Homo sapiens: one gene and its partner. The protein of the gene in region 1 interacts with the protein of each later gene in a pairwise test. Each region holds a gene or a part of one and is shown in the gene's direction. Other genes may lie near its edges.

Evidence for each region. Proteins that work in one complex are often made in the same cells at the same time.
Region 2: the proteins of PAX2 (region 1) and KLK9 interact in a two-hybrid assay, tested with the Homo sapiens proteins (one large-scale study listed by BioGRID and IntAct).

Annotation. Positions count from the first base shown.
Region 1 is NC_000010.11:100,804,018-100,808,617, forward strand, and holds part of PAX2 (paired box protein Pax-2), read left to right. Parts: intron 1-2,412; coding exon 2,413-2,588; intron 2,589-4,600. UniProt on the Homo sapiens protein: Transcription factor that may have a role in kidney cell differentiation. Has a critical role in the development of the urogenital tract, the eyes, and the CNS.
Region 2 is NC_000019.10:51,006,474-51,011,650, reverse strand, and holds the start of KLK9 (kallikrein-9 precursor), read left to right. Parts: upstream 1-2,058; 5' UTR 2,059-2,103; coding exon 2,104-2,146; intron 2,147-2,311; coding exon 2,312-2,468; intron 2,469-4,927; coding exon 4,928-5,177.

The DNA of each region.
Region 1 (4,600 bases):
GTATTATACGCACAATGAGTTGAGGCATGATGTTCATTTCAAGTTCATTTCGCCGGCCTCTGCCACCAGATCAGGCAATCAATAGGGGCAGCAGATATCATATATCACCTCTCTGCGGGCCGGGGAGAGAGCACCATAATCTCTCGCAAATTTAGAGTGACAGATTTGTCAAGATCTGAAGGGCCCCTGAATAAATGAAGGCAAAGAGACTCCTCCAGCCAGTGACCTGAGGACAAAGCTTCAGTTCAGCCCCTACACACACACACACACACACACACAGACACAGTGAGCCAAGCCACACACAGACAGGCATATACACAAATCTACACAGAGGCATGAGGAGAGTCCTGCCACACATGCACACACATAATGTGTGAACACACGCTCACAAATACACCCTCTCTGCCCCTACAATAACCATATATGAAGATATTTGATGCTTTCCTCAGCCCTGAGAGTCCGGCTTCCCCAAAAGGTAGGAGGGCTCCAGGAAGGGAGAATCAAACACAATAGGACACGCAAATAGCTACAGGGAGTGAAATGAGGATGATGGCACATCCTGAAAAAAGAAGTAGGCACAGGAGAAACGGGGCATGTGGCCTCACAGTCCTCATGCAATCACACACAGACACACACATTCTTTCAGGAAGCTTCTCATTCTATTTCCACACACGCAGACCCTTGTTTATCTGGACGTTTATATATGTACAAGCGCGTAGACACGCAATACTCACACAAAAGGGAAAAATAAATTTACCACACTTCAACTTTCAACTCATATGTTGATGCATACATCCCGTAAGACTGAAATGATTCCAGAGCCTTATGCAGAAGAAACCACAACCACCAAGTTTTGTGTTCATGGGAACAAATACCATTGAAGCTGCTTCTGTCTGTCTTCTTCAGATGTGGTCCTGGTCTTGATCTCTGTCTCTCTCTCCCTCTCTTTCTCTCTCTCCTTCTCTCTCTCTCTCTCTCTCCTTCTCTCTCTCTCTCTCTCTCACATACACACACACACACACACACACACACACACACACACACACACACACACACACTTTCTTTGCTTTCCCACCCCCTCCAGAATAGATATGGAGGGAAGATGGGAGGTCACATTAGGAAAGCAAACCCCATGCTCGGTCTGGGAGGCCAGCAAGGGAGGATGGCTGCAGGTTGAGTTAATCAATATGTAATATTTTCTATGGTCTCCTGAATGATACTGTATGGTGTTACTGTATATAATGCAATATTGATTATATCATATCGTATAATCACCTATAAACTGATATATATAACATTCCCAGAGGAACACCCTGGGGCCTCCGGCATGGGCTGGCCCCAGGCCCAAGGCTCCTCAGCTGGTCTTGGGCTGAGGGAAGCCTGGAGTGACCAAGCTGGTATGGGGTTTGGGGGGGAAACCCCACTTTGGGGGGCTGCAAGGTGTGGGTTCAGAGAGAGGCCACAGAGCAGGCACATTGCCTACTGTACACCTTGAAAACTCCAAGGAACCGACGCTGGGAGGCAAGGATAGGGGAGGGCTGAGAACGCCTGAGGAAAGGGGACATGGAGACAGGATTGGCCTGTAGACTCAGGGGAGCAGGCACCGGTGTGATAAGACTCTGCTCCCTCTGGAGACTTGCAGGAGGAACCAGGTGACCAAGAAACTGGCTCCTGTAGGAGGCTTGAGCCTGGGTCTAGGTTGGAGACAGAGGCCGAGAAGGCGGCCAGGGCATAGAGGCATCCACAGGGGCCCTTCTGTGGGCTCTGCCCAAGCGGGAGCTTTGCTGCTCTAGCGACACCTCTTTCCTCCCGCTTGGTTTCCCTCTGGCCTCAGTCCTGGCCCAACCCAAGCAGAGTGCCTCAGCTCTGCCTCAGAGCCCCTCCTCCCTCAGGGCGAAGTTGATTACTTCACCCAGTCTCCAGGTTACACTCGGCCTCGGAAATTTGATGGTTTTCAACCCTTGGAATTAGTGGAACTGAAATTCATCTCGGAGCCGAGTTCAATTCTCCACAGGCTCAGTAATGCCAGTCTGAGACACCCAGCTTCTTTCTTCCCCAGGCTGGCCCTGGCTTGGGGGCAGGGGGTGGTTCAGGGAGACATGCCCCAGGGAGCTGGCTCCTGGGAGCCCCCTGGCTCCACCTCTGCCTAATCCTTCCTGACCCCACAGTGTGACCGCTCCATCTCTTACCAGGTCCTCAGGTCCTTCTCTTCCTTGGGCTTCCTCAGCCAGATCTCTGAGGCAGGGCCACCCTCTGGTGTCAGCCCCACTGGCCCAGGGGCTGAGAGTAAGGGGTCCCATAGGGGTGCAGAGCTCCTGGGCCCGGAACCAGATGCCCACCTCTTTGCCCTGCACTGTTCCTGTGCCTCTGCTGGCCTGGCGCTAACGCCCCGAGTGTCCATGTGTTCTCCAGATGTGTCTGAGGGCTCAGTCCCCAATGGAGATTCCCAGAGTGGTGTGGACAGTTTGCGGAAGCACTTGCGAGCTGACACCTTCACCCAGCAGCAGCTGGAAGCTTTGGATCGGGTCTTTGAGCGTCCTTCCTACCCTGACGTCTTCCAGGCATCAGAGCACATCAAATCAGAACAGGTGAGGAGGGAGCTTTCTGCTTGCAGAAGTAGAAAGGAGCCGGCAGAGCAAGGCCTCTCAAAAACTTGTTCACTAAACACCACATGCATAGCCAGCATTGTATGTGTTACACACGTGTGTTCTGTGTGTGTGCAGTGTGAACAGGCTCACATGAGACAGTATGGTATCGTTAAGACAAATCATTATGGTCTGTATATGGTAATTAGAAATGAGTTCTGGGTGCAAGAGTATGGCCTTGGGTAAATCATCTCTGTTCAGAGCCTCGGTTTCCCCATCTATAGAATGAAGGGCTTGGATGTAGGGTTTGTCAAGTCCCTTCTAGCTCCGCTTTTCTGTGGTTCTTGCATGGAGTACTCAGGAACATCCTCTTGCTGTGTCCCTTGCCCACACCCCCTCAGGGTCCTACAGAAAGTCTACGCTAGACTGGGGAGCTCTCCTTGCCCAGTGTCAGGAGAGCCTGCCTGTGCCTGCCTCCTGCTCCCCAAGCCAGCAATTCAATGGAACCCTAGGTAGGCTGGCAGCTTCCCACTTACACCCAACACTTTCTGCAGACACTGAGCAGCCCAGGACACATAGCATGGGGCACAGCATGTAACACACCAGCAAAACGCACAACGCAGAAACCATCTCCGAACTTTTCTATGTGCTGGTGTGCATGTGCTCACACTCCACCATCCACCTGCTCCCCTCACCCACAGCCCATGGTACTGTGCTCACACACCACTGTCCACCTGCTCCCCCACCCACAGCCCACGGTACTGTGCTCACACACCACCGCCCACCTGCTCCCTCACCCACAGCCCACGGTACTGTGCTCACACACCACCGCCCACCTGTTCCCTCACCCACAGCCCACGGTACTGTGCTCACACACCACTGTCCACCTGCTCCCCCGACCACAGCCCACGGTACTGTGCTCACACACCACCGCCCACCTGCTCCCTCACCCACAGCCCACGGTACTCACAGCTAGCCCCGGCAGCCGCATGGAGCCAGTGGGTGTGTGCTGCCCCCAGATCACCAGCTCAGCATACCCCTAGCATATGCCTCCACCCACATACGCTGGGTGGAGCCCCCAGCACACCCGCTCCCACACAGGGGCACACTCCCATCCCTGCTACACATGCAGCCCAGGCCAGGCCCACAGTCACAGCACAAGACAGCATTGCTGTGCTTGCATGCATGCACACACGCACCCACACATGCACGTCAGTGCAGCCCCACAGCGTTGAACGCTGTAGTTCCACTCTTAAGACTCCAACAGCTCCCAGCCACTCGCCTTTCTCCCCGCCCGTCCTTTTATCCCATAAGCTGTTTGTCTTCATAAAACAAAAATCAAAAGTCTTTTTAAGGTGCCCTGAGCCATAAACCAACAAAGGAGGAGCTGGCCGAGGCGGGCGGCTCAGTGCACCCTCCCTGAGTCCCCGCCTGTATTACAATGAATAACCTTTATTTACTTTCATTAGACTATTAAACACCAGCACAGTCATTTTTCCCCCTGAAACTCGGAGCAGGGCCCATAAAGCAAATCCGAAGCCTAATTGAGTTCATTTTAATTTCTCTCCGATCACAGCGAATTACTCTGGTGATAAATCAGGGGGCAGCTTCACCCCCAGTAGAAGGCCTAATTTGCAGCTAATTACAAAACTGATTTCTACAGGAAGATCAATACGAGAAGGAATTGGAAATGACGAGGCAATCCCGTCCAGCCATGGAGGGGAGGGGGTACTCTAGGGGGGCCAGGAAGCGGAAGGGAAAAAAACAGACCCGAAAGAGCAGGAAATCAGTTTTAATTTAACGTAATATTAATCAGAGCAACTTTTCCTGCTTTGTGCAGGCTCCCGGTCTGCCCAGCTCTGGGGTCTGGCTTGGCCGTGGCTGCAATAAAAAGGCAATTACCCGAGTGTTTCAGGCAGGACACCCTTTCAGAGTCAATGACTGGCCCCCTCCTACCCTTCTGTTAGCCATGTGGACTCTCCCCCTCCCCAATTTCATACCCCAGTGCACAGGCA
Region 2 (5,177 bases), on another chromosome or scaffold:
CCTCGGTCCCCCAAAGTGCTGAGATTACAGGCGTGAGCCACCGCGCTTGGTCTAAAATGCTCTTAATAGCAGTTAAGGTGGCACTTAGCACATAGTGGATACCCAGTCCCTGATCTCAAGGACTTCCCTGTCTGGAAAGGGAGTGAGACAACTGCAGGCAAGGGTGAAATGAGCTATGATAAAGGCACCACAGGTTTCTGCAGGGGATGAAGAGACATTGAACATTTACCATGTGTCAGACACTGTTGTGCTTCATGTGTGTAAATTTGCTTAATCCCCCCAACGACCCTCGTTATTACTGCTACTTAACAGATGGAGCAGGCCAGGTGCGGTGGCTCACGCCTGTAATCCCAGCACTTTGGGAGGCTGAGGCAGGCGGATCACGAAGTCAAGAGTTGGAGACCAGACTGGCCAACATGGTGAAACCCCGTCTCTACTAAAAGTACAGAAATTAGCCAGGTGTCTTGGCGCACGCCTTTAGTCCCAGCTACTTGGGAGGTCGAGGCAGGAGAATTGCTTGAACCCAGGAGGCAGAGGTTGCAGTGAGCTGAGATCGCGCCACTGTACTTCAGCCTGGGTGTCAGAGCAATACTCCGTTTTGGAAAACAAACAAACAAACAAACAAACAAAAAACAGATGGAGCAACTGAGAGAGGTCTTGTGACTTGCCCAAAGTCACACACCTCATCACTAATCACACCTAATCATTGAGATTTGGACACACATGGTTCAGTTCCAGAGTCCATGCTCCAAACCATGACGACACAGTGAGAGAACATTCAAGGGGAGCCCAGACCCAGCTTCATAACCAGGCCTGTGAGCAGGAGAAAGTGGAAGGGATCGTAAGTGCCCAGGGGAGGCAAAGATGGACTCTGCCTGAGGATCTCAGAGATTTCCTGGAGGAGGGAGAATTGAGGTTGGGTGTTGAAGGATGAGTGGGAGTTCACCAGGAAAAGAAGGATATGGAGAAAGACATTCACTCATTCAATGAACATCTCCTGAGGACTTCTGCAAGCCCTGTTCCGCCTGGAACGGGGTGATGCTGGGACACAGAGATGAGTCAGACCTGGGCCCAGCCCTCCAGAAGCTGTCCACCTGGTGAGAAGGAATGATGAGGAGAGAGGCAGGGAGGATGGGGTGATGGAAGGGACAATGGGGTGGGGGGCAGGGAGATGGATGAAAAAAATATATAGCAAATGTTCTCAGGATTTGGCAAAGATCAGGATGTATTAAGAGAGAGCACAGGGCACTTGCTACCTGGAAGGTTGGGCACCTGGGTCCTTGGGTGGTGGAGCCGTGGGGAAGGGGGCAGGTTATGACAAGAGTGGGTTAATCCAGATGGAACCAGATTTCTCAACATTCTAGGAGAGGGCCTTGTCCTTGTGGGAAGAGGCCCAAATCCCCAGGGCAGGGAAGGTTCTGCAAGGTGTGTAAACCTGTGCAGCTGCCTGTGGTCTCTGCCTCACTCCACCTGGATTTCCCTCAATCTTTCCCGTGTTCTGTCTCCTCCTCCCACTCCTCCTCTCATCTTGGGTCCTTCTGTGCCTGTACCTCCCTCTCTTTGTATCTTTTGCTCTTGTGTCTGAGTCCTGACTCTGTCTTCCACCCCTCGCCTCCTTTCTGGGTGGTCCCCCTGCACATCCCTCCAGCCTGCCGTGGGAGGTTGGTCTCTGCACACCACTGCTTTATCCAAAATAAACCTGCTGCACCCCAGGACCTTAGGCTTCAAGGATCTCCCTCCTTTTCCAGGACACAAAAGATTCTGTATCTTGTAGCCTAAGGTGATGAGGAATGAGGTCTCCCACTCTGAAGACCCCAGAGGAGGTGCCCACAACCTCTCCACACCCCCAGCACTCCTCCTCCATTCAGTCAAGCTCTGGCCCAGCAAGCCGCCAGTTCATCCCAAAAGGGGGGTCCCCCTGCACTTACCTCCTCTCCCAAGGCCCCTGTCACAGCCCCAGGGCTTCCCCCTCCCCCAGGTACATTTCCCAACCCCGATTAATCACAGGGGCGGCCCCATGGAGGAGGAAGGAGATGGCATGGCTTACCATAAAGAAGCACTGGACGCCGGGTGCACGTTCCAGGATCCAGGTGCCCAGGGGTCATGAAGCTGGGACTCCTCTGTGCTCTGCTCTCTCTGCTGGCAGGTGAGGCTCCCAGGCTGGCTGCCCCTTCACGGCTGTACTAAGGTCACCTTGCTCTTCCCTCCCATCCCAGGCTTCTGCCTCCTGCCCTCTAGGCTTCTCAGCATCCTCTCCCTGCCCTCCCAGCCTGCTCTTCGCTGACCCCTTTGTCCCTCATCCCCACCCCAGGGCATGGCTGGGCAGACACCCGTGCCATCGGGGCCGAGGAATGTCGCCCCAACTCCCAGCCTTGGCAGGCCGGCCTCTTCCACCTTACTCGGCTCTTCTGTGGGGCGACCCTCATCAGTGACCGCTGGCTGCTCACAGCTGCCCACTGCCGCAAGCCGTGAGTGACCCAGGCTGGCCATGCTGGGGAGGGACAGAGGCTGGGGGTCAGGAGAGGGTGAGGGGTGCTTTAGGCCAGAAGTGCGGAGCCTCCACTTCTGATACCACAAGTTCAACTCTTAGAAGTAGGAAGGGTAGCCTCCCAAATCCTAAAATTCTAGAGACCAGCAATATCTCATTTGAGAAGTCTAAGATTCGAAACTTAGGCTCTTCGAATCCGAGACTGACCCAGAGAAATCCAGAATCGTAGAATCCTAAAATCTTGAATTTATGAAATTCTGCAATAGCCTCAGCAAATTTTAGAATCATAGATTCGCAGACTATTAGAATCTTAGCAGTCTGGGTCAGCACTGCCCAGAGGAATTATGATGCCAGCCACATGTGTAAGTTTAAATTTCTGGTGGACACATTTAAAAAATAAGGAATGAGTAAAATTAATTCTAATAGATTTAACTTGACATACCCAAAAACTTATTTTGACATGTAATCAATTTTTAAATACGTATGAACGATACAGTTTACTTTTGTTTTGGTACTAAGCCTTTGAAATCTGTTCTGTATTTTACACACATAGCCTGTTACAAAATGGACTAGCCACATTTCAAGTGTTCAATAGCCATAATGGCTAGTGTGATCCTAGAATCTTAAATTCAGAGCTTTCTAGATTCATTGAATATTGAAACTCACAGTACTAGAATCTTTGATTCACAGTATCCTAGAATATTGAGATTCAGATAATTCTGTAGTCTTAAACTATTTGAATCCCAGACTCTTAAATTTCTAAGGTTATAGATTTATAGAATGATGACATTCTAGTCTTTCTTTTTTTTTTTTTTTTTTTTTTTTGAGACAGAGTCTCCCTCTATCTCCCAGGCTGGAGTGCAGTGGCACAATCTCAGCTCACTGCAACCTCTGCCTCTCGGGTTCAAGCAATTCTCCTGCCTCAGCCTCCTGAGTAGCTGGGATTACAGGTATGCACCACCATGCCAGGCTATTTTTTTTTTTTTTTTTTTTTTAGTAGAGACGGGGGTTTCACCATATTGGCCAGGCTGGTCTTGAACTCCTGACCTTGTGATCTGCCCGCCTCGGCCTCCCAAAGTGCTGGGATTACAGGCGTGAGCCACCGCGCCCAGCCAAAATTCTAGTCTTTTTGTCCTAGAACATTAAAATTCTATGTTCAAATCTTAGATTTAATTCAGATAATGTTAGAATCCTGGAGTTTTTTTGATCCAGGGGAATCTGGAATGTTAGAATCTTGGATTCATAAAACTCTAAACCTTGAGCCTCTAGATTCTAGAATCATGGATAATAGTGTGTCGGAATCTGAGAATTCTAGAATCTTAGGTTCTGGGCATTCTAATAGTATCCTGGAATCCACCTGATGCAGGAATCCTCTCTCCATTGCCTCTGAAAAGTGACCATCCATACTGTTCCAATTTTCTTCCCTCCATGAGTAAAGCACTGATTGTGGTAAGAGATGCTGTGTGGGAATTTCCCATCATGCATTGCTCCATGATGGAACCTCCTTTAACTTAAGCCTATACATCAGACTGGGAGAACGATGTTCAGATTTCAGCCGAAAGTGAAGCAGGAGAAATGCAGAGATATGAAGGTGGAAGAGAGTGAGAGGCAGGGGAAGGGTAGGGGGATGAAGGGATGTAGGGGTGAGGACTACTTTTCCAGATCCAGAGCCAAGACAGCAAGAATGACAGAGAGAGACAGACACAGATGTTTCTGGTTCCCCAACCCTGAATTCGCAGTCATTAGCCTGCTGCCTAATGTCAGAGGTCAGAGGCTGGGGAATGGACTTGTCATCCCCGAAAGGATCCCAGCTGTCTAGGGCATGGACCAGAAATGAAACAAGTGCGCTGAGACTGTGGTGAGGGCTTAAGGTTAGACACCAGGAAGACATGCATTGAAGGGTGAAGGATATGATAGACAGGAAAAGCTGAGGCCAGAGATGACCCCCAATTTGGGGATTTTCCATATCCCATCCCCTTTCATACACACGCACACGTATACACACACACCACTTAGACATACAGAGCCGCTCCCACAGAAGCCACCAGACCTGTGGGGGCAGGGGTGGGGCGGTTGTTATGTGGTAGGTGGGGTCCCCCGTGCCCACACCGTTCCTAGGGACCCAAGTCACCACCAAGGCTCCAGGTGAGTAGGGAGGAAGGTGGCTCACTCAGCCTGGGACTAGGAGCGGGGGCTTTGTGGGGAGAGCTACAAAGATGGAGACACACAAAACATCAGAGTGGGGACCAGGGACCCAGAGGAGGTGTGTGCCTCGCTTAAAATCACAGTACCCTGGGCCAGACATAGATGATGAGGGTGCAGAGAGGGTGTGTGGCTTGCAGAGGGTCACACAGCACCCTGATGGACAGGAAAAGAGGGCTGGGGCTGAAAGGACTTTTACCTTTCCCCCAGCTTGACCTCTGAGGCCTGTCCCAGCAGGTATCTGTGGGTCCGCCTTGGAGAGCACCACCTCTGGAAATGGGAGGGTCCGGAGCAGCTGTTCCGGGTTACGGACTTCTTCCCCCACCCTGGCTTCAACAAGGACCTCAGCGCCAATGACCACAATGATGACATCATGCTGATCCGCCTGCCCAGGCAGGCACGTCTGAGTCCTGCTGTGCAGCCCCTCAACCTCAGCCAGACCTGTGTCTCCCCAGGCATGCAGTGTCTCATCTCAGGCTGGGGGGCC